Linked DNA regions of Homo sapiens. The protein of the gene in region 2 interacts with the protein of the main gene of each other region in a pairwise test. Each region holds a gene or a part of one and is shown on either strand. Other genes may lie near its edges. The genes, in order: SOX4 and NANOGNB.

Region 1 (9,923 bases), on a different chromosome or scaffold from region 2:
AAAAGTTTAAAAACAAAAACCCTTAACGGAACTGCCTTAAAAAGGCAGACGTCCTAGTGCCTGTCATGTTATATTAAACATACATACACACAATCTTTTTGCTTATTATAATACAGACTTAAATGTACAAAGATGTTTTCCACTTTTTTCAATTTTTAAACACAACAGCTATAAACCTGAACACATATGCTATCATCATGCCATAAGACTAAAACAATTATATTTAGCGACAAGTAGAAAGGATTAAATAGTCAAATACAAGAATGAAAAACGCAGTACATAGTGTCGCGAACTCAAATCGGCATTTAGATAGATCCAGTGGTTTAAACGGCACGTTTTTGCTTATAAAAAAAGTGCAAAAAAGATGTGGTTTACAAGTTAAAGCTACAGAATCCCTTTTTGCTGTAATTGCACCAGTTTTAAAGCCTCTGGACAGAGCAGTATTTCGTTTAAAACTTTGTTTTTCTTAAAAGCTTACAGTGTTTGGCTAATTCTCCTCCCCTTTTTACAAGACGGGGGCCGGAGGGTGGACACTGGTGGCAGGTTAAGGGATACTGTCACTTTAAGAAGCCTGCAGATTGAAGTGTAAACATGGAGAAATTAGGGGCTGATTTTTTAAACTGTGTGAGATATTAACCAGCCGCCCTGTTATAAAATCAGGAAATCCAAACAGCGATTTACACCGATTAACACCCCCTTTATATATTTTTTACAAAAATACACTGAGAAAATAATCAAACGTTTTCATCTCTCTTGTCTTTTTTTGTTTTTTAAAAGTGTCAAAAGTCTACATTTAAATATAAAAAATTAAAAGTTAAAACTCTAGCCCTTCAGTGAAGGAGACGTAAAATGGCGTGGGTAACAACAACTACCAAAAAAAAAAAAAAAAAAAGAAAAAAAAAAGAAAAAAAGGAAAAGGAAGGAATAAAGAAATAAAGGAAGTAAAAAGAAAGGAAAGAAAAAAAGGGACAAAAGAAAAAATATGTTTGGCCAGTATAAATACGTCCACATATAAAATGGCATCTGATTACATTTACAAGGAAAAAGAAATACGAGGATGGAGCATCGGTGAAGGAAAAAAACACGTCTTCTCATTTACACCTATAAGGAATAAACACACACACTGAGAAAAAATTTGGTCCTGAATTGTTTTTTTAAAGTCCAGCACAGATTTGAGTTGCGTTTGAATCCTTTAAAGAGTTAAGAATGAAAAAAAGCTGGTGATAATTTCGTTGTAGGAATCAAACATAGCGCCATCTATCTGCTTTTTATATTATCCTACACTATTTTAAAAACTGCTCAACAGTCTTATACAGAAATCTTTAAAAGATAGACAGGATAACATGCTATATTAACCCCACCATTGAAATAATCCAACACCATCACGATTCCGATTAAGAGAAGAAAAAAATCTTTTTTTTTTCTTTTTTTTTCTTTTTTTCTTTTTTTTTTTCCGAAACCACTCGCCCTCCACTGACTGCCCCTGTACCACATCAAACAGTCTCCTCTCCTCCACGCCTCCGGGGTCTGGGAAGTCTCACCTCACTGATTTCACGTAGAAAAGAAGGCGGAGGCCCAGCAGCCGCCGCCGCCAGCTCCCCAACGTGCAAATCCATTTCAGTTTGACCGTGAACCCCCTTCCAGTTCGTGTCCTCCTCCGCCCCCGCCCCTAGCTCCCGCTGCTGCGCTTCCAACGGGGTTCTCGGGTCATTTCCTAGCGCCGGTCACACTGGCTGGCCTCCTCCCCTCAACATCTCCTCCTCCGGCTGCAGAGGGGGCAAGGGGAAAAGAGGGAGGAAAAAAAAGCCCCAAACGGGAATTCGCCTGCGTGGAGTCTCTCAGTCCCGGCGTTCCCCCAAAACATCTGCCATCGGCCAAATTCGTCACCCCGGAGCCTTCTGTCTTCATCACGCGTTTAAAAAAAGGGGGGGAGGGGTGCGCTGGGTTCTCCCCTCCTTTCTTGACCAAGAAGCAAAATAAAACAAAACCAAGGTGGTGATGCAGGAAGGGGGAGACTCCTTCAAGTCTCTAGAAAACTAACTCGCCTTCTTGCTGGGGGTGCAGACAAGTCCGGAAGCTCGTTGGAAGGGGGAGGGGGTCTCTTCAAGCAAAGGGGAGCAAACTCGAAGTCGCTTTTTTTTTTTTGCCATCAACAACAACATCAATAACAACAATCACAGGTCGCCCCTGTCTACCCTCTTCCTCCTCCGCGTCCCTCCGGCTGGGCAGAGTGGGTCCCCGGCCCGGGAAGGTGGGGGATGGGAGCGCGGGTCCAAAACGCCGCCGCGCTCCTTGATCCGACGACGAGAACGCGGGCGAAGCCAGCCCTGCTTACTTTTTCTTTCTTTTTTCCCTTTTCTCTTTAAACTCTTCGTCTGTCCTTTTCGTTTCTTTTTTTCACTTTTTTTTTCTCCTCTCCTACCCCCCCCGGCCCTTCTCCCTGCCTGCGCGCCCTTCAGTAGGTGAAAACCAGGTTGGAGATGCTGGACTCGAGCCAGTCTCCCGAGATCATCTCGCTCACCTCGGGCGTGCAGTAGTCCGGGAACTCGAAGTGCGAGCCGGAGCCGGGCTCGAAGTTAAAATCCAGGTCCCGGTCGAGCGCCGACGACGAACTGAAGCTGCCCAGGGACATGCTCTCAAAGTTTGAGCTGGGGTTCAGGTCGAGCAGGTCGTCTTCGAACTCGTCGTCGGAGGACGAGGAGCCCGAGGAGGAGGAAGAGGAGGAGTGGGACGAGGCCGAGGAGGACGCGTGCGAGGGCGCGCTGGACGGGGCGGGCGAGGCGGCGCGCAGGCTGGCGTAGCCGCGGTGGTCGGCGGGCGAGCGGCCGGCGGCGGGGGACGAGGCGGCGCTGCTGCGGCCGCTCAGGCTGGGCGCGTCGGGCGAGCAGCCCGCGCCCTCCTCCTCGTACAGGCCCAGGGGGTCGCTGGGGTCGGCTCCCGCGCCCACGCCGCCCACGGGCGACGACGACGTGCCCAGGCCGCCGAACAGGTAGACGCGCTTCACCTTCTTCTCCGCCAGGTGCTTGCCCGGGGCCGCGAGCGCTGCGGAGGCCGAGGCTGCCGAGGAGGCGGAGGCCGAGGCGCTGGGAGTCCGCGCCTTGTACAGCGAGTGGTGGTCGGCGGCGGCGCCCAGGGGCAGCAGGGCGGCGGCCCCCGCCTGTTCGGCGGCGAAGGAGGCGGCGGCGGCAGCCGCTGCTTTCCCGCCGCCGCCGCCGCCTGCCAGGATGAGCTTGGCGTGCGGTTTGCTAACCCCACCGCCCGCGCCGCCCGCCACTTTGGAGCCGCAGCTCTTTTTCTGCGCCGGTTTGGAGTTGGCGCCGCCGCCACTCGCACCGCCGCCTCCTCCCCCCGCGTTGCTGCTCCCGCCGCCGCCGCCGCCCCCATGGCCGCCCCCGCCACTGCCACCGACCTTGTCTCCCTTCTCCCCCGGCTTGGAGGAGGCGGCGGCCGAGGAGCTGGAGTTGGCGTTGCCGGACTTCACCTTCTTCCTGGGCCGGTACTTGTAGTCGGGGTAGTCAGCCATGTGCTTGAGGCGCAGCCGCTCCGCCTCTCGAATGAAAGGGATCTTGTCGCTGTCTTTGAGCAGCTTCCAGCGTTTGCCCAGCCGCTTGGAGATCTCGGCGTTGTGCATGTCGGGCGACTGCTCCATGATCTTGCGCCGCTCGATCTGCGACCACACCATGAAGGCGTTCATGGGTCGCTTGATGTGCCCACTCGGGGTCTTGCACCAGCTCGGGTCGTCGGCCTTGCCGCCCGTGGAGGCGGTGGAGCCGGGCGTGGGGGAGGAGGCGATTCCCAGCTCGAGGCCGGCGCCCGAGTCCGAGCTCTCGCCGGCCAGCAGCGCTTCCGTGTTCTCGGCATTGTTGGTTTGCTGCACCATGGCCTCGGCTCGGCGGGCGCCCACGCGCGCTCACACCCTCGCGGCGGCCGCCGCGCGATCGCCGGGCCCTCCCGGTTCCCCGGGCCAAGCACACGCCGAACGGGAAGACGCGCGCGGCGGCCGAACTGGCCCCTCAACTCCTCGCAGGGGCGGAGGTGGGTAAAGAGAGAAAAGTCCCCAAAAGATTTGGGGAAGGAGTTCTCCGCCTCTCGCAGAGGAGTTATAGTTCCCAGGCTGGAGAGTCTCTCTCTCCCTCTCTCTCGCTCTCTCACCGCGCTGCAGTTTGCTGTCTCTCGGCTGAGTCTGGAGACCGTGCTAAAGTAGAGAGGAGTTTCTCGAATGCTGGTTGCTGAAGCTTCCAATGCAAGTTTCTCGCGGCCTCCCAGGCAAGTCTTTTTTTTTTTTTTTTCTTTTTCCCTGAAGCAGTTGATTCCAGTTCACGAGCGCTCTCGGTAGCTCAGGAAAGCGACATAGTCTCTAGCACTTAGTCCCTCTCCTACAATGCAAAGCAAAAAAGACTGTGGCTCCAGGACTCTCTGTGGGCGGAATCGGCACTAAGGAGTTGGTGCAATTATTTTGTTGCAAGGTAGGAAGCCAAAAAGCCTGCATGCAACAGACTGGCATGAATAAATGTATGTTTCCCCCTCCCTTCTGCAAGAAGGGAGCTGGTAATGGCAGGAGTTCCTCCAGTGCAGACTCTTAAAGAGCGTGCAAGAACTAGAGACCCGACAGCGAAACAGGCCTCTTCCCCTCACACACAGTTTCTCTTGCTGCAGCTTAGAGCAGACCCCAATTCCGCCTCGCGCCTCTTTATCCTTTCACAGTCTTGGCTGCAGCCAATCAGCTGCTGTAACCAACGCTTCCTCATGCCAAACCCCTCCCCCGGGCTTCCCATTGGCTTGGAACCCGATGCAATAATAATCTCCGCGTGCAATGAGAAGCTCCAAATCTGACCTCATTCCAATTTACAGAGCAAACTTTTTAAAAGGGCTAGAAGTACAGCTGAGATTTCTGCTGCCTCTTTTTTCCTTTTGCTGTGTGTGTGCGCGCGCGTGTGTGTGCGCGCGTGCGTGTGTGTATAGTGTGTGAAGAGGATGTTAATGCATGAAATTATTAAGGGGAGAGACGGAAATGTATTCTAACCATTATGTTAGATAACAAGGGGCTTGGAACGGGGCGGGGTAAGGGTGAAATACTGTAAATGGAAGCTTTCTGCTTAAAAGCCAAGTGATTATTTTTATTAGTTCTTTTCAGCATTGGAATAAAGAATCAGCCTCTGGTGCAAAATCTGTTCCCCAGCTCTTTCTTAAAGCCAAAGCTGTAAAGGGGAAGAGAAAGCCACAAAACAATAAATCAATGGATATTGAAAACCATTAAGAAAGTGGTACCTAGACACCTGTCATCACAATTATTTTAACAACTCTAGGTACAGCACAGATGTTGATGTATTGTGTAAATCCCTTCAGAACCGTTTTTGTGCTGTTTGTGGAAGGCAGGGAAGAGGACTTTGCAATAATTGCTTACTCTCTTAACCAAGCAAGGGTCAACTATGGTTATTTAATGATTTAAACTCCCTGTAAATCCTGCATAGCCCAAACAGGGGAGCTTTCCCTTGAAACACATTAGGTAGTGCTCCGTAATTACCTCAATAGGCAGATTTCCAGAGTTTTGTATAGGATGTATAATGGCATGTAAAGGATGGAAATCGGTTTTACTTTCTAAATATTTGTTTTCCCTGTTTTCAAAATTAAAGATTGCTTCACTCTCTTCCCTCTCCTCCTCCCAAAGCCATCTTCCTCCTTTCCTTCTTATATATTTCCTCTTGTTACTTGAATCGAAGGGAACTGAAAAACCAAGGCAAAGAGAAACTGTAGAAGGAGGTGATAACTGGTAGCAGAAGAGAATGGGGCCTCCGGATTCATAGTAGACCTGGCTGCTAATCCTTCTTAATGGTTTGTAACTATGGGGATGTGGCCAAGTCTCAGTTTTCCTCATCTATTATATGGGAACACTAGGAGCTACTTTATAGAGGGTTGTTGTGAGGGTTCAATGAATTTGTGACTATGAAGCACCTGATGTATTGTAAGCCCTCAATGAATACTAATATCTTCCTTTCTAATTCAAATGCCAGACACACTCCTAGTAAAAGCTGCATGTTGTTCAAGAGGCTAAAACAGAATAGCCACTTATGTAAAAAAGTAATAACAGGCAGGACGCGGTGGCTCACGCCTGTAATCCCAGCACTTTGGGAGGCTAAGGTGGGTGGATCACTTCAGGTCAGGAGTTCGAGACCAGCCTGGTCAACATGGTGAAACCCTGTCTCTACTAAAAATTAAAAAATTAAAAAATTAGCTGGGCAGGGATGCATGCGCCTGTAATTCCAGCTACTCGAGAAGCTAAGGCGGGAGAATTGCTTGAACCCAGGAGGTTGCAGTGAGCTAAGATTGAGCCACTGCACTCCAGTGTGGGTGATAGCGTGTGACTATCTCAAAAAAAAAAAAAAAGTAATCACAGATCATTGATGTGAACCATAGAAGGACAATAGTGGCAACCCTGCCATTCCATTGATTTTAAAAGAAAGGAACTCCATGAAGAATACTAAGAAGAATGTGGCAAAGAAAGGATGCCAAGGTATTCAAAATAAACGTTGGCTACAGAAATTACTTGTTTTCCAGTGTCTGAAAATTAGAATTGTAGTAAAAATCAGCTTTCCTTAACACTATAATAGGAAACTAATATTCTTCAGGCTAACCATAAGTGGTTAGGTAAAGTCAATCCAAAATAATTAAGTCGGCTTTTGATTCAGATTAAACTAGTGCTGGGTAGTAAATTTCTATGTATCTTGTCAAACTTTTAAAGTATGTAGGCTGGCAATAGGCCCAGGTTGTCAGACTTAGAATTTTACTGGAAAGAACACCCTATGTAGCCATCTGACTGGATCTGTAAGGATCAACCACAAGCAAAACTGTTTTTGTGGGTAAAAGCAAATAATTTTTGACGATTAGCTACTTGTATTACATAATTTTTTTAAAAAAGGAGAAACAAATCCTTAAAAAAAGAAAAACCCAAACCAAAAACACACAGGCACCTTTTTTGCATAACAGTGTTGCTGTGTTATATACTACATTTTCTCTGGTGTGCATAGAAACACATCCTTAAATGTTACCAATCTGACAAAAAAAAATTATTTTAAGAGGGCTATTATCTATAAGATCAATATTTTCACTAGAATAAAAAAGAATATTTATTTTTGAATTTGTACTAACTAATGATTTGAGGGTGTAGCTAGTTTGATAATTCAGTCAAGTTGAGTATCAACATTATTGATTATATTTCTCAGTCATTTATGCTTCCATCATCGAATATGATAGGGAAGAGTGGAAGTTAAAGCAGTCATATATGTTTCTGCTTAAAACACATGGATTTTTTAAAGGGTGTACTAAAACACAGCCACTGGCCTCATTCTTTTGTTACATGTATTTTCTGTATTTCAACAAATCCAACAAATTTTAAGACACACCATTATATTACATTCCACCAAGGAAGAAAGCTGCCAATGAAACTGTGATATCCCCCTAGATGTAGGATGCCTCCTTATTTCAGGAAGAGTTGAAATGAAAAGAAAAATTTCCTCTTAGACTTGATGAAATATGGTATCAGTAACTTCCATTGACTTTATAATTACTGCATATATATTTATATATTACACAAGTGCCTAGACTTCTGAAATAGATCTGTTCTAATGGGTTAGTTCTCTTAGAATGTAAGAAAACATATGACGAATGCCCTTTTATTAAAGTCATCTTTGTGACCAACTAAGTGTGTGCACACTGGAATGTGTTGGACCTCTCAATACCAAATAATGAGAAAAGATTTCTCCCTTCTCATTCCCTAACTTCATATGCTCTGTAATCAGTTCTCCATTACTGACATTTTTTTCCCCAAATACCAGATATTTGGTGGCCCCTACTAAATCAGTACGCAGTGTTCCCTCTGCTGGCTTTGCAGTACATGAAGTAATTCTTAATGCTAGTCTTTTAGCTGTATTAAGAGAAAGCCAAGATAATTTTGCAGAAAAAAAAAATCCTGGTTTAGAATAATAAACTGTCTTTGTTAGCAATGATGTTAGACATTTCCAATTTTGAATTAGGTATTTTATTTTATTCCCTTAAATGATGGAATTCCATTTGAGATGTAAGTGTAATATCTGCTAATGCATTTCTTCTGCTCTCACACATCTACACAACATAAAATCTCACATCCATACAATGGTATGGGGCATAGATGAAATAAGATTCTATTCCACTGCTTAATATATTCCTTTGGCATGGAGGGAGGGACCTGAATGGAAATTAGTTTAACAAATCTGGATTTGCACTGATTTGCAAGATTTTGCCTTGCCTTGGTTATAGAAACTATGATTGTAGGCGCTAGTCAGACCTGACAAGTATTCAGTTCAAATAAAATAAAGAGGAGGAAAAACTGTGTAGTTGTTACTTTACCTGACAAGGAAGAAGCCCTGGGAAATCTGATGTCATTGGCCTTTGTCAACTGAAAGGCGCCAGTTTTTTTGGTTCCACACTTTATGGAAAAGAAGCCTCCATGTGAGGCTGATTTACTTCTCAGTCAAGTAGACAAACATAACTTGCACTTCATCCTTTTGGGCTGATGACATTGCATTGTAACTGGGCTCAGCGCGTAATGGGGGTGGGGGTGCGTGCATTGAAAAATAATATATGGAAATAACTCATATTTGCAAAATATCAAAATAGGATTCTGGGGTAAATGAAACCTAGCATTTATTTTTATCACTAGAATAAGCTAAGAGTTAAGAAACCTGCATTTCTAACAATTGTACCATTTTCCTCTCATAACCAGTGACTAGCACACAGTAGGCTTAAGCTGTTCATGCCAATGCCAACTCATTATTCCTTTCCTTCGATTTTCTCAAGAAAACAAGCAGAAGACGAATGTTTGCAGGGCCACTTGGATTGCAAGCATGAATACAGGCTTCTGCTTCTATTCTAGAGGCAGAGGCACGGCACCCGGGGAGAGCCTGGGTTTGTCTGCAGCCAGCCGGCTCCCAATCTGGGGAGAAGCAGCCGCCAGGTGGCATCGCTGAGCCTCCCTGCGCCCGCGAGGCGAGGTAGGAAATCGTGGGGATAGTCAGTCTTCTTTCTTCTCCCCCTTCCTCCTCTCCCGACCCCCCTACCACTCCCTACCACTGTACCTTCTTTAGTTAGAGGCTTAAACGCTCAACGAGTAACAGGGTATGTCGATGAATTCTGATTTTTTTTCATAAATCAAAGTTTAGGGCAACCACCCGCCGCCTCCTGCTCACTTGTCAGGAGCTCCGGGTGACGGGGGAAGCCTAGACCAGCTTCCTGTCTGGATCAGGTAACCCAACTCGGGGGATTATCAATTTCAGTTTCCCTGTCTTCTTGCTAAAGTGAATGCAGTTTCTCCGGCTTCCGAGAGCGGCTGCAGAGAAACGACGCGCCTTACTTAAGGACTCCAGTGCAAAGGCCACTCCCTACTCAAAAAAAAAAAAAAAAAAAAAAAAAAAAAAAGAGGTTTCCTTCAGGCAGAACGCCTTCCGGAGCGCAGCGACTCGGTCTCGCAGGCACGGCGCTCTCCCTGGCTTAAGCTCGCCAAGGATTAATGGTGCTCAGCCTCGCTCCGCCGCGGCAGCCGAACCTCTCCTTTCGCTTACAGTTACAGGGAGGAAATAAATTGGAATCGACTCAGACTGTGCTTTCTGGAGGAAAGTCCTTCCTACTGTAAACATGTTTCAGGCGATCCTGTCAGCAGCATTTTAACACCCGTCTTCCGTTTAGGTTTTACGACCGGGGAAGGAGCTGAAGACACGCGCGCGCACACACACACAAACGCGGGCGCAGACGCAGCCCAAGCGAGGACACCTCCCGCACCCTCGCGGGCTCCCAGCCCTCCTTTGAATTTGCAACCGGTCGCGGATAGGTTGGGGGGGTCGTTTCCCAGGAGCTTGGCTCCTCCGTCCTCCTACCCCATCCCCTGGCCCTTG
Region 2 (9,529 bases):
GGATCACCTAAGGTCAGGAGATCGAGACAAGCCTGGCCAATATGGTGAAACCCCATCTCTACTAAAAATACAAAAATTAGCTGGGTGTGGTGGCATGCACCTGTAGTTCCAGCTACTTGGGAGGCTGAGGCAGGAAAATTGCTTGAACCCAGGAGGCAGAGGTTGCAGTGGGCTGAGGTTGCACCACTGCACTCCAGCCTGGCAACAGAGTGAGACTGCATCTCAAAAAAAAAAAAAAATTTGCCAGGCATGGTGGCAGGCACATATAATCCCAGCTACTTGGGAGGCTGAGGCAGGAGAATTGCTTGAACCCGGTGGGTGGAGGTTGCAGTAAGCCGATATCGCACCATTGCACTCTAGCCTGGGCAACAGGGCCAGACTCTGTCTCAAAAAAAATAAAAATAAAAATAAGAAGAAATTCATTGCAGGGAATTGTCTTACGCAATCTTGGAACTGTCTTGGCAAGTCCGAAAGGATGGCTGGAACCCTTCAGTGTGCGATGGAGCTGCTCTCCCTAGGCAGAATTTCCTCTTAAAGCCTTAACTGATTGGATTAGGCTTTCTCAGATTATAATCCCTTTTACTTGAAGACGATTAATATGGATTTTAATTACATCTAAAAATGCCAGTAACAAGGCCCGGCGTGGTGGCTCATGCCTATAATCCCAGCCCAGCCACTGCACTCCAGCCTGGGTGACAGAGCAAGACTCTGTCTCAAAAGAAAAGAAATATGCCGGCCGGGCGCGGTGGCTCACGCCTGTAATCCCAGCACTTTGGGAGGCTGAGGCGGGCAGATCACGAGGTCAGGAGATTGAGACCATCCTGGCTAACACAGTGAAACCCGGTCTCTACTAAAAATACAAAAAATTAGCGGGGCATGGCGGCGGGTGCCTGTAGTCCCAGCTACTCCGGAGGCTGAGGCAGGAGAATGGCAAGAACCAGGGAGGCGGAGCTTGCAGTGAGCTGACATCCTGCCAGCTGACATCGTGCCACTGGACTGCAGCCTGGATGACAGAGCGAGAATCCCTCTCAAAAAAAAAAAAGAAAGAAAGAAAAGAAATATGCCAGTGGCACCTAGTGTTTGATTGAATAACTGGGGTCTATAGCCTACCCAAGTTGCCACATTAAAGACCATCACACTGATACTCAAACCAGACAGATATCACCCCTAAAAAACTATAGATTAATGTCCATTATGAATATGGAGGCAAAAACTTCAACAAAATGCTAGCAATCCTAAATCCAGCAACACAGTAAAACGATTATGCACCATAACCAAGTAGGATTTATTCTAGAAATATGTGATTAGTTCAAAATAGGAAAATCAATGTAATACATCATATGAATAGAATAAAGGAAAAAAACATGCAATCATCTCAATAGAGGCAGAAAAAGACCGTTTCTCTAAAATTTAAAGTTACCATATGACCCAGCAATTGCCCCTTTAAACAAAATGTATTATATCTATACAATAGACTATTATTTAGCCACAAAAGGAAATAAAATACTGATTCATGCTCAACATGGATGAATATTGAAAACAAGCTAAGCGGGGGCTGGATGTGGTGACTCACGCCTGTAATCCCAGCACTTTGGGAGGCCGAGGCGAGAGGACTGCTTGAGCCCAGGAGTTCAAAACCAGCCTGGGCAACAGAGTGAGGTCTCCTCTCCGCAAAAAATAAAAAAATGAGGTGAGAGGATCACTTGAGTCCAGGAGGTCAAGGCTGCAGTGAGTCCTGATCATGACACTGCACTCCCACCTGGGTGACAGAGCAAGACCCTGCCACACCGGAAAAAAAAAAAAAAAAAGAGGAAAAAGGAAAGCAAGTTAAGTGAAAGTTGAAATACAAAAAGTCATATATTGTATGATTCTGTTTATATGAAATGTCCAGCATAGGCAAACCTATAGAGACAGAAAGTAAATTAGTGATTATCAGAGATGAGGGTGGGATAAAATTCGGAGTGTCTGCTAATTGGTATACATTTTCTTTTAAAAAAATAATGTATTTATTTTTAAGAGACGGCAGTGGGTGAGGTGGGATGGCAGCTAACTGTGCTGTTGTTGGTCTCGAAATCGTCAGCTTCAGTGATCTGTCCGCCTTGGCATTCCAAAGTGCTGGGATTACAGGCGTGAGCCACCACACCAGGCCACAAGTTTTCTTTTGTTAGAAAAAAAAAAAAAAAACCCTCTTGTAACCCACATCCTTCTATTGCTACCACTCCTCTTCTCAATTTCTTTTACAGAATGTGATAAAGTGTAAGAAAATTTTAAAGAGTTCTCTGTATGTGTTCTTTGCCTGTTGGTGATTTTTCTCCCCTCATTCTCTCTTGAATATTCTCCAATCAGGCTTTCACATCCACTTCCACACATTCCTCTTCAGAGTCAGACATTAATGACCCTGACATTGCAAAAAAAGTAAAATGGCTGCCAGGCACGGTGGTTCCCGCCTGTAATCCCAGCATTTTGGGAAGCCAAGGCAGGCAGATCACCTGAGGCCAGGAGTTTGAGACCAGCTTGGCCAACATGGTGAAACCCTGTCTCTACTAAAAATACAAAAATTAGCTAGGCTTGGTGGCGCACGCCTGTAGTCCCAGCTACTTGAGAAGTTGAGGCAGGAGAATCGCTTGAACCCGGGAGGCAAAGATTGCAGTGAGCTGAGATCGCCCCACTGTGCTCCAGCCTGGGCAACAGAGCAAAACTCAGTCTCAAAACAAACAAACAAACAACAACAAAACAAAGGCCAGGCGTGGAGGGTCACTCCTGTAATCGCAGCACTTTGGGAGGCCGAAGTGGGTGGACCACTTGAGGTCAGGAGTTCAGGACCAGCCTGGCCAACATGGTGAAACCCCGTCTCTATTAAAAATACAAAAAACTAATCGGACATGTCTTTTGAACCCCGGGAGGGGGAGGTCGCAGTTAGTTGAGATTGTGCCACTCCAGCCTGGGCAACAGAACAAGACTGTGACTCAAGAAACAAAAACAAAAGAAAAGAAATCAAATGGCCAATTTCCCATCCCCATTTTCTTTTAAGGGTATCGTGGTGGTGAGATAGTGGGTTTGTTTTGTTTTGTTTGTTTGCTGTTTTGTTTTGTTGAGACGGAGTCTCACTCTGAAGCCCAGACTGGAGTGCAGTGGCTGGATCTCAGCTCACCACAACCTCTGCCTTCTGGGCTCGAAGGATTCTCTTGCCTCAGCCTCCTGAGTAGCTGGGACTACAGGCGTGCCTCACCAAGCCCGGCTAATTGTTGTATTTTTGGTGGAGATGGGGGGTTTCATCATCTTGGCCAGGATGGTCTTCAACTCCTGAGCTCAAGCGATCTGCCCCGCTTGGCCTCCCAAAGTGCTGGGATTTGAGGTGTGAGCCACTGTGCCTGGCCTGTCCCCATCTTACTTACTTGAATGATCAGGGGCTTCTGAAGTATCGGGATCTCTCTCCACATTGAAAGAGTTTATTCTCCCACTTCCTGAACACCATCCTTTCCTGGGGCTTCCTCAAGTCAATGGCTGCTCTTTCAAAGCTTTCTTTGTTGCTCCTCTTTCCCCTACTGATTTCTGTCCCTGTGCTTTTTCAATCACACTCAAGGTTAAATCCCTTCACCTCTTATCTCCTTTACATGTAGCTCTAATCCAGGTCATCTAATCTCATGGTTTTTAATACTGCCCAAAAGGGAGATTATTTTCAAATTTTTATTTCCAGTCTTCTATGTCAAACTCCCAATTCAATATCTCTGCTTGGATGTCTAATAAGTTATGTGAATTGAACTTAAAATTCCCAAACTCAGTTTATGGCTCCCTTCACTGAACGCTGACCCACTCAGGCCTCTCTATCTTAGTAAAGCCAACTCCATCTGCCCAGTGGTTTGAGTCAAAAAGCTTGGTGCTGTCTTTCACTTCTTCCCTTTCTCATAGCTCAACTCAATCTGTCAGAAAGTCTTGCTTTTCTTTCTTTAAAATATATCCAGACAACTGCCACTTCTTTTTTTTTTTTTTTTTTTTGAGACGGAGTCTCACTCTGTCGCCCAGGCTGGAGTGCAGTGGCGCGATCTCGGCTCACTGCAAGCTCCGCCTCCCGGGTTCACGCCATTCTCCCGCCTCAGCCTCCAGAGTAGCTAGGACTACAGGCGCCCGCCACCACGCCCAGCTAATTTTTTGTATTTTTAGTAGAAACGGGGTTTTACCTTGTTAGCCAAGATGGTCTCGATTTCCTGACCTCGTGATCTGCCCGCCTCGGCCTCCCAAAGTGCTGGGATTACAGGCGTGAGCCACCGCGCCCGGTGCATTGAGGAGTTTTAAAGACCAATTAGTCCTTGGTAGGGAGGTTACAGAGATGACCGACCAGATAAGGTAGATGTCATCCATCTTTTGGATGTCAGTGGGCCACAAATATGAGCACCCAGTGGCAATTCACAAAAGGAATTCCACAAAAAGAACACATTTCCTGACATCTATTTTTGGAGCCATGAAGAAAAAAAACTTTTCAAATAGCCATATGAAAAATGTTCAATTTACATGTTGCAGAGTGTCCCAAATAGTGAGATATACTGATAAGAAAATGCTTTCCAAAATACAGTGGAGAGACAGGAAAAAAAAAATGTAGGGCTGGGCGTGGTGGCTCATGCCTGTAATCCTAGCACTTTGGGAGGTCAAGGCGGGCAGATCATTTAAGATCAGAAGTTCAAGACCAGCCTGACCAACATGGTAAAACTCCATCTCTACTAAAAATACAAAACTTAGCTTGTGTAGAAGTACGTGCTTGTGATCCCAGCTACTTGGAGGCTGAGGCAGGAGAATCGCTTGAACCTAAGAGGCAGAGGTTGCAGTGAGCCAAGATACTGCCACTGCACTCCATTCGGGGACAGACAGTGAGACTCCATGTTAAAAATAAATAAATACATAAATATTTTATGAAAATGCTACTTGGTCGGGTGAGGTGTCTCACATCTGTAATCCTAGTATTTTGGAAGGCCAAGGCAGAAGAATTGTTTGAGCTCAGGAGTTCAAGAACAGCTTGGGCATCACGGTGAGACCCCTGATTCCATTATTATTATTATTATTATTATTATTATTATTATTATTATTTTAATTTTTGAGACGAAGTCTCCTTTCTTGTCCCCCAGGCTGGAGTGCAATGGTGCAATCTTGGCTCACTGCAACCTCCGCCTCCCAGGTTCAAGCGATTCTCCTGCCTCAGCTTCCCGAGTAGCTGGGATTACAGGCACCTGCCACCACGCCCGGGTAATTTTTGTATTTTTAGTGGAGACAGGGTTTCACCATGTTGGCCAGGCTGGCCTCGAATTCCTGACATGAGGTGATCTTCCTGCCTTGGCCTCCCAAAGTGCTGGGATTACAGGTGTGAGCCACCGCTGCCCAGCCCATTTTATTTATTTATTTATTTATTTATTTATTTATTTATTTATTTATTTTTGAGACAGAGTCTTACTCTGTCACCAGGCTGGAGTGCACTTGTGTGATCTCGGCTCACTGCAACCTCCACCTCCCAGTTTCAAGTGATTCTCCTACCTCAGCTCCAAGTAGCTGGGATTACAACCAAGTGCCACTATGCCCAGCTAATTTTTTGTATTTTTAGGAGAGATGAGGGTTTCTCCATGTTGGCCAGGCTGGTTTGGAATTCCTGACCTCAAGCGATCTGCCTGCCTTGGCCTCCCAAAGTACTGGGATCATAGGCATGAACCATCGTGCCTGGCCTCCGACTATACTCTTACCTGGTCACACAACCAGCCTCACACTCTGGTAGAAGAAACCACTTGTTAACCACTTGTTAACCACTTCGTTAATCTCAGCTAAGAGAAGAGAATTTTATTTTATTTTATTTCATTTCATTTATTTATTTATTTATTTTTGAGACGGAGTCTTGCTCTGTCACCCAGGCTGGAGTGCAGTGGCATGATCTTGGCTCACTGCAAGCTCCGCCTCCCGGGTTCACACCATTCTCCTGCCTCATCCTCCCAAGTAGCTGGAACTACAGGCGCCCGCCACCACGCCCGGCTAATAATTTTTTGTAGTTTTAGTAGAGACGGGGTTTCACCATGTTAGCCAGGATGGTCTCAATCTCCTGACCTCGTGATCCGTCTGCCTCAGCCTCCGAAAGTGCTGGGATTACAGGCGTGAGCCACCGCGCCCGGCAGAGAAGAGAATTTTAAAGAATCACTGAAGACCGAGTGCGGTGGCTCATGCTTGTAATCCCAGCACTTTGGGAGGCTGAGGCAGGCGGATCATTTGAGGTCTGGAGTTCGAGACCAGCCTGGCCAACATGGTGGAATCACATCTCTACTAAAAATACAAAAATTAGCTTGGCGTGGTGGCACACCCCGTAATCCCAGCTACTCCAGAGGCTAAGGCAAGAGAATTGCTTGAATCTAGGAGGTGAAGGTTGCAGTGAGCTGAGATCACGCGACAGCACTCCAGCCTGGGTGACAGAGCAAGACTCTGTCTCAAAAAAAAAAAAAAAAAAAATCACTCAAAGTTTGACTTTTGTGTTTGGGGATACCCAGGATCCGACACCTGACTCAAGCATGACAATGTTGAAAAGTGAGAGGCAATCAGGAGCTGTCCACGGTGGCTAAATGTGGACAGGAGGTCTCTGTTCGTCATGGTCGCTGGTAGTCCCCTCAGATGCAGGTAAGCTAGGGGAGTAAACATTTGATAGGGGCTGCTTTTGAGCTGTCCTGGGCACATTAGAGTTGCTGCCTATGGCCTTACAGGTCTTCCATCCTAGCAGCTCCTCTTGAAAGGAACACGGACATCAGAAGCTGGGGGCTGAGGAGGGAGTTCCACAGGCCAGCTGTAAGAGATAAGTTCCCAAAAAGCAAATTCGGGGAATAGGCACTCATAGGGAAGAGATCTTCAAAAGCAACAGAGAAGGCCGGGTGCGGTGGCTCACGCCTGTAATCCCAGCACTTTCAGAGGCCGAGGCAGGTAGATGACGAGGTCAGGAGTTCAAGACCAGCCTGGCCAACATGGTGAAACCCTGTCTTTACTAAAAAATACGAAAATTAGGCTGGGCACAGTGGCTCACGCCTGTAATTTCAGCACTTTGGGAGGCCGAGGCAGGTGGATCATCAGGTCAGGAGTTCGAGACCAGCCTGACAAACATGGTGAAACCCCGTCTCTATTAAAAACACAAAAAAATTAGCAGAGTGTGGTGTCGCATGCCTGTAATCCCAGCTACTTAGGAGCTGAGGAAGGAGAATCTCTTGAACCTGGGAGGCAGAGATTACAGTAAGCCAAGATTGTGCCACTGTACTCCAGCCTGGGTGACAGAGCAAGAGTACATCTCCAAAAAAAAAAAATTAGTTGGGTGTGGTGGCACGCAACTGTAGTCCCAGCTACTCAGGAGGCTGAGTCAGGAGAATTGCTGGTACCTGGGAGGTGGAGGTTGCAATTAGCCAAGATCCGGCCACTGCACTCCAGCCTGGGCGACAGAGCAAGACTCTGTCTTAAAAAAAAAAAAAAAAGGGCTGGGCATGGTGGCTCATGCATGTAATGCCAGCACTTTGGGAGGCCGAGGCGGGTGGATCATGAGGTCAGGAGATCAAGACCATCCTGGCTAACACGGTGAAACCCAGTCTCTACTAAAAAATACAAAAAAAAAAAAAAAAAAAGCCGGGCGCGGTGGCTTACGCCTGTAATCCCAGCACTTTGGGAGGCCGAGGTGGGCAGATCACAAGGTCAGGAGATCGAGACCATCCTGGCTAACACGGTGAAACCCCGTCTCTACTAAAAAATACAAAAAATTAGCCGGGCGTGGTGGTGGGTGCCTGTAGTCCAAGCTACTCGGGAGGCTGAGGCAGGAGAATGGCGTGAACCTGGGAGGCGGAGCTTGCAGTGAGCCGAGATCATGCCACTGCACTCCAGCCTGGGCGGCAAAGCGAGACTCCCTCTCTAAAAAAAAAAAAAAAAGCAACAGAGAAATCTGGGCTCGGTGGCTCACACCTGTAATCCTAGCACTTTGGGAGGCTGAGGTGGGTGGATCACCTGAGATTAGGAGTTCGAGACCAGGCTGGGTAACATGGTGAAATCCCGTCTCTACTAAAAATACAAAAAAATTAGCCAGGCATGGTGGCAGGCGCCTGTAGTCCCAGCTACTGGGGAGGCTGAGGCAGGAGAATGGCGTGAACTCAGGAGGTGGAGCTTGCAGTGAGCCTCGATCGCGCCACTGTGCCCCAGCCTGGGCGACAGAGTGAGACTCCGTCTCAAATAAAAAGAAAAAAAAAAAAAAAAGAAACAGAGACCTGGCTTGGTGGCTCATGCCTGTAATCCCAGCTACTTGGGAGACTGAGGCAGGAGAATGGCTTGAACCTGGGAGGCAGAGGTTGCAGTGAGCTGAGATCGCGCCACTGCACTACAGCCTGGGCAACAAGAGGGAAGCTCCATTCCCGCCCCCCGTCCCCCCAAAAAAGAGAGAGAGAGATCCTCCTGCCTCGGCCTCCCAAAGTGCTGGGATTACAGGCATTAGCCACTGTGCCCGGCTGAGAATGGATTTTTAAATACCTAAATAAAGGTAATTATTTGTTAGGAAGCAAGAGAGACTGGAAAGGCTCTGGGATCTGCTTGAGATTTCCTCTGGGGTCAGGGCAAGGCAAGTCAACAGAACAGGTTAAAGGGACAGTTATCGACAGAGAATAATATGCTCCTGTTCTAACCCTTCCAAGTTCACCTTATCCAAAAGCAATTAGGCTCTGATGAGTATTTTATTCCCTTGCAGATGCATCTTATGAAAATAGAGATTTGGGCAGGTGTGGTGGCTCACGCCTGTAATCCCAGCACTTTGGGAGGCCGAGATGGGCGGATCACGAGGTCAGAAGTTTGAAACCATCCTGGCTAACACGGTGAAACCCCGTCTCCACTAAAAATACAAAAAATTAGCCGAGCGTGGTGGTGGGTGTCTGTAGTCCCAGCTACTTGGGAGGCTGAGGCAGGAGAATGGTGTAAATCTGGGAGGCAGAGCTTGCAGTGAGCCGAGATCGCGCCACTGTACTCCAGCCTGGGCGACAGAGTGAGACTCCATCTCAAAAAGAAAAAAAAAGAAAATAGAGATTTAACCCTTGGCAGAGAATATGGAGCAGAGGCTAGAGAAGGCTTAGACTAGTAAGAACTGAAATGGACATTTCAGGCCTATGATGATAGCTACATCACATATTCCCCCGTTTTGTGTATAAACCAGCTGACACTTTGAGAGGGTAAGTGACATGTCTTAGGTACACAGCTTAGAAAGTGGCAAAAACTAAAAAGGAACAAAGCTGTTTGGTTTCAAATCTCAAATGGAAGAAGGACCTGACCCAGAGGTGACTAATCCGGTGAAGACAGTGGTCCTTAGGATCCAGGTAAATAAAATGCACTGAAAATAGAGCAGTTCTGCAGGGTGAAGTAGTTTCATCTGTCTGTGCAGAACCAACCTTACAAACAAATGGAGAAAATGGAGTGTGGCTTTCATTCTTGCGAGTCTGAATTTTGCAGGGATAGTGATTGAGATTGCAAGGGACCTTAGTTTGTGTGTGTGTGTGTGTGT

Evidence for each region.
Region 1: the proteins of NANOGNB (region 2) and SOX4 interact in a two-hybrid assay, tested with the Homo sapiens proteins (one study listed by BioGRID).

What each region holds. Positions count from the first base shown.
Region 1 is NC_000006.12:21,588,492-21,598,414, reverse strand, and holds the start of SOX4 (transcription factor SOX-4), read right to left. Parts: upstream 4,665-9,923; 5' UTR 3,881-4,664; coding exon 2,456-3,880; 3' UTR 1-2,455. UniProt on the Homo sapiens protein: Transcriptional activator that binds with high affinity to the T-cell enhancer motif 5'-AACAAAG-3' motif. Required for IL17A-producing Vgamma2-positive gamma-delta T-cell maturation and development, via binding to regulator loci of RORC to modulate expression.
Region 2 is NC_000012.12:7,760,037-7,769,565, reverse strand, and holds the start of NANOGNB (NANOG neighbor homeobox), read right to left. Parts: upstream 4,351-9,529; 5' UTR 4,281-4,350; coding exon 4,179-4,280; intron 1-4,178.